Regions from separate parts of the Homo sapiens genome. Here region 1 is linked to region 2. Evidence: fine-mapped expression QTL. A gene starts in region 2. The other region holds a variant in brackets. All regions are shown on one strand. Distances are from middle to middle.

Evidence for each region. PIP is the estimated chance that this variant, and not a neighbour inherited with it, causes the effect.
Region 1: its variant is fine-mapped to the expression of SPX in lung (TOPMed, PIP 0.91).

Annotation. Positions count from the first base shown.
Region 1 is chr12:21,558,690-21,561,189 of GRCh38, reverse strand. It overlaps GYS2 (glycogen synthase 2), which reads left to right. Exons shown (of 16, transcript NM_021957.4): 8 at 698-804; 9 at 1,480-1,539; 10 at 2,021-2,099. Among named protein-coding and RNA genes, the nearest start is that of SPX, 34 kb to the right of the region's middle. RefSeq lists an enhancer at 2,067-2,500. The variant T/C (reference allele first, on the strand shown) is at 1,238.
Region 2 is chr12:21,524,559-21,527,604 of GRCh38, reverse strand. It overlaps SPX (spexin hormone), which reads right to left and starts at 1,309. Exons shown (of 6, transcript NM_030572.4): 1 at 1,127-1,309; 2 at 639-719; 3 at 413-470. The coding sequence starts at 1,132.

The DNA.
Region 1 (2,500 bases), 34 kb before region 2:
TCCTTTCTTTTGACATTAATAAAATGAGGAGAGAAATGCCTATTGTACATGATTATTAGTAGTATATTTAAAGCACCCAGCACAGTGTCTGCTATCCCAAAAGTGCTCGTCATGTGCTTGTTTCTTTGCTTTAGGGCTAAAAACCAAAATACAACATCATGAGAATCAAGACATTTAGCGGAAAAGTAAAAATAATCTATCTGTCATCAATCAACATGAATAAGCAAAAAAATTGAAATATTATTTTAGCTTTTACCAAAGCTTAAATCTTCATTAAACTTCCAATCTGAAATTTTAAAGAACTAATTTTGGTCTTGTAATATTAGCTCTCATTCATGCTATTTTTTTAACCACAGAAAAGCACAGTGTCATCAATAGCAATTGTTATCTATTCTAGATGGTCAAAGGCACGAAAATATTTTGTTTGAATTTTCAAATTGTTAACTGACAAATACTGATTGAAAGTCAATTTGTTTATTGGCAAGTACAGACTGAAAATTTAAAATTTATTTTGATTTTAATTAAAATTTCTGAAAAAGTCTCAGGAAGGTGAATATAATCTCTCTGTGAAACATAAATAACTATACCTTTTATCTACTGATATTTTAAAACTCTACTTTTCAATGTTTAAGTTCCATCTATCATACTTTTTAAAAATCTTTGATAGTTGACTCTGTGTTTTCTAATTCCTCATCAGATGCATAAAAGTGACATCACAGTGATGGTGTTTTTCATTATGCCTGCCAAGACAAATAATTTCAACGTGGAAACCCTGAAAGGACAAGCAGTGCGAAAACAGCTGTGGTAATCTCACAACCTGTGAATGTTCTCTAGCAATAAATGTGAAAAGATTTCTTTTAAGTGAATGACATCTCATGTATCGCCTTGAACTTTGTTTTTTCCTTAAGATTATTACAGACAAATAATACTTGACTCTCTTTTCATCGTGCTACTATTTTAGGTTATCGTAATGGTTATAACATTATAGGTGTTATACAAATTTTGGAATGAGCTACCATTGAAGGAACAAGGCCCTGTAGAAATCTTTAAAGATGAGTCAAACATTTTTTAACTTTCTATTGTGAAATTCTAAGAACATGTCAAGTAAAAAGCTTAGTAATATGACTCCCTGTATACTCATAGTTCAGATTCAACAATGATCAACGAATTCCCGTCTTGTTACACCTATACCTTCATCTACTCCCCCTCTCTGCTCTCTATCCTGTTCCAATCATCA[T/C]GAAGCAAAAAAATTTTAAGCTCTTTGTGCTGGCCATGGTGTTCTGTTGCCTCAGCTCTGGAGATGTCAACTTAAGCTGAATTGGCAAGTAGTAAAATAATAGAAGAGACTATAAAAAAGATACCTGTAATTTCAAAGAATGTAATTTCAAAGAATGTCAACAAAACAATAGCATTATCGTGACAAATAAAGATTAAACATTGTCATACTGTTTAAATGATAAATCTTTCTGTTTCAAACAGGGATGTTGCACATTCTGTGAAGGAAAAGTTTGGAAAAAAACTCTATGATGCATTATTAAGGTAGGTGCTTGAAATGCTTTCTACTTCAATCACTTAAGGTTTCACTATTCAAATTTAACAATTTAGACATCATAACTTATTAATTTTGTTCCAAATATCAAGGAATTAATAACCTTTGAAAATGTGTTATGTCATGTGAACAGTATTTTACCCTTCATTTGACAAAACTTGTAAATAGCTGTACAAATAAGAATACATTTATATGCAGGCAAGTTCTAATTCAATGATGAACTCATTAAGGGTTGATATGTCAGTCTGAAGCTGAGAGAGACTTCATGAGATTTTAATTCAAAATATATATTGACAATGTGTATTAAATATGTACTTAAATATTAAGTCTATGTGAACACATTTACTTAATAGAATAATCAACATTATTTATTAAAATACATGAAATATATAATATATAATCTGATGCTTAGGAATCACTGAATTAGTGCCAGCTGTTTTTATTTTTGTTATTAACATTTTTTCCCTGCAGAGGAGAAATTCCTGACCTGAACGATATTTTAGATCGAGATGATCTAACAATTATGAAAAGAGCCATCTTTTCAACTCAGGTAATAAGGAAAAAAGCACCCACTATGTCCCATAGTTATTAAATTCTATCTAATCAGTATTTTAATTTATTGGAATGTGCTAATTTGGAACATTTTCAGACCTGAGGCTAGAAAAGACATTCTTACATAGTCACTTAAATGATTACTTTGGACATTTTTTCATTAGTGGTTTTAAGAGCTCCTTTAAAACATCTCATGAAACTTGTCCTTCCACTTGCTTACAAAATTATTTTTGAATTAATATATTCAATATAAAAATTATGTATAGTTTAGTAACTACAAAAAAGTCCTAAATACTTCCAAAACATAGAATTTGAGTCACATTAGAGAAAAGAATATTTCTTAGTCGAGTGGAATTATTACAAAGGAGATAAAACAAATGTGTCAGGCTTGCATCAGAA
Region 2 (3,046 bases):
AGGGTCGCGCGGGGCTGCCGAGTTTCCAGCGCTCCCAGCGCAACCCCGGGCTGAGCCAGGGGCCCTGGAGCTCTGGAGGAAAGCCCCGCGCCTGACCGGACGCCGCAAGGGCGCTTTGGAGCGGAGGTCGGGTTACTGAGATATTTCCCAGGCAACCCGAGTCCCCATTTGGACCAAGAGAAGCAACCCTCCAGTTTTGGATGGAGAATTTCTAATAAGGATGGAGGATTTCCAATAATCAGGGACTCTTCCCCTCTCCCACCCCTCCCTCACCTACCGGTCTCTTTGATGGCCTCGATGATTTAAGGGAATAAACTCGACATTATTCTCTCTCCATAACTCTCCATCTATCTGTTCCTGACTCCTAGGGGTCTTCCATTATTGTAGGAAGAGCGAAATATTTGGAACTTACGTGCCCCTTTCAGGTAGAGCATAGCTTGAGGAGTCCAGTTCCTTCTCTCCAACAGTCTCTATAGCCCGGGGGAAGGGAAGAGCAGTTAATAAAACATTGCAGCTCAGTCCTCTATTACAGCAAAATAAAGGAAAAAGAAGAGAATAAAACAAGAAGGAAGAAAGAAAGAGCAGAGTGGACACACAGTGCGCATTGTTTTAAAATTTTTTATTTTGCATTTGATTACCTGCGGAGCGCAGCTGGAGTTTCCCAGGAAAACAAACACCAGGAAAAGAGCCAAGGTTGTTGCTGCCAGACTTCTGAGTCCCTATATGAAGCGATCAACCAGAAAGGGTCATTTCTGTGCCAATAGGATCTTCTGCTTCCTTCCTTGACGCCTGGACAATTATAAACCCCCTTACTTCTCGCAATATTCTGTTTTAATACTCAGTTTTCTGGAGGTGTTTCCCTTCTACCTTCTAGTTAATTCACAAAGAGTCCACTTGAAAAAACGTATTTAGAAACATATTATTTGTATTACTTCACCCAAATGAAGAATAAGTAAATACGTGAATTTTTTTCTTAGTAAAATCAAATGATTCTGTTATTCTAAAGGCGTATCGTTCAAATATCCTTTAAACTCTAAAATCCTTATTAAACATGAAATAGGTAAAATGCTATAAAACGTTTTAAAAAATAGCTAAGAAGTCTCAAGTTAATAAAGCCTTTACTTACCTTCATGTTCTGCGTCTTTTCAGAACCCTGAAATAACTATAACTTTATCTGTGAGTTTTCGACTCTTGCTCTGAAATTGGAGCTTTTAAAATCTTGGTGTTAAGGGCACCTCCCCATCTGGAGTAGAGTTTGGGAGTCCACAGGGACATCTTGTCAGTCTTCAAGCAAGATTGAGAATCTGATGACTCCTCCAGGGAGCTTCATTGCAGGAAGTAGAGGAATGATTGATGGGCAGAAATTATTTGTTTAAATACTGATTGCATCACCCAGGAGGCCTTCAGAATGTGTCAGCATCATTGGCCTTGCTTTTCCTACTAGCTGCCCAAAGTAACATGTTATTATTATTATTAATGAAAACAATCAATAGTCCAAGGCAGAATCAAAAGTAAAAGAATAAATCAGAAAACTTTTCTTGGGTAACTAGCCATCAGTCTATCACTGATGGCTAAAGATGTATGAAAAGGTTTGGGAATCTCAATGGAATTTGACATCAGTCATTCACTTAATTATCAATTCATTCTGTTGTTTAGCAAATATTTATTGAGTGCCTATGAGACACACAATCCTTGTATTTCAAGGGACACAGCCATGCACTGAAAAGACATGGTCTCTGCTTTGATCTAAGTTACCTACTAGTTAAGGTACACAGTAAACTGATGAATAGATAAATAAGACACAGTAGTTACCCCTTAATCGTAGGTGTGTGTGGGGTGGAGGAGCATGTTTCAAGACCCACAGTGGATGCCTGAAACCACTGATACGTATATGCCTTATTATACTATTTTTTTTTATCTGTTCACCAAGATGGTTACTAACTGATTAATGGGAGAGTGGTGTTTACATATGGACATGCTGGACAAAAAGATGGTTCATGTCTTGGGTGGGCTGGAGCTGGACAGTGAGAGATTTCAACACCCTACTCAGATTTAAAGCTCACAATTTAAACTTATTAATTCTGGAATTTCCCATTTAATATTTTCAGACTGTAGTTGACCATGGGTAACTGAAACCATGGAAAGTGAAACCGTGGATAAGCAGGGACTACTGTAACTACAGAATGTTTTAAATTGTTAAGTAAAAGTAAGCAAGGTGATGTGATAGGATAAGTGGTGGGCTACTTTAGGGAAGGTTAAAAACAGAGGGTAGTCTTGAAGGATAAGGTGAAGTAATGGGAGAAGCTGGGCAGGAATTAGTATTCCAGGCATTCTCAATAGAAGAAAGAAAAGCAAAATCTGTGGACAGCAAAGAGCATGACTTGCTTGGGGACTAGGAAAGAGGCCAATGGAGGCAGCGTTGTGTGGGTGAACGGGGGAGGTGCTTTGAAATGAGATTGGAGAAGAAGAAATGGGCCAGTTGATGTGGAAATACGATTATAAGCAATAGATGATGATGGCTTACACTGGGATGGTACACACAGGGAAAGAAGAGCTGTAAATGAATTTGGAATACATGTTGTGGAGGTAGAAAATATAGAACTTGTATATAAAAGGGATATGAAAGTGTGAGAAAAATAAATCAAGGATGATTCTTAGGTTTATGGATAAAACTGTGGGTAAATTATGAAGTAATTTACTGAAATTAGAGAAACTTCTTAAGAAGCAAGTTATGAGAGGGAAATTAACACTTGCCATATAGGCATATTAAAATTAAAATGTATATTAAAAATATCCAAGTACAAGTACAAAATAGAAGGTTAGAAATGCAAAACTTGATAGAGGTCAGCCAAGAGGTCACCAGCCTACAGATTTTCTTTTTGGTGGGGGGCAGAAATGATTAGCTTTAAGAATTTTAAGAATTCTAAGAATTTTACAACCAGTAAAGGGATGAGATTAAACACAACACTTAGGGAGTGAATAGGGCTAAAGAAGAGTGGCAGGGACAGAGCTATGAAAACAAACGCATAGAGAATGAGCAGAGGAA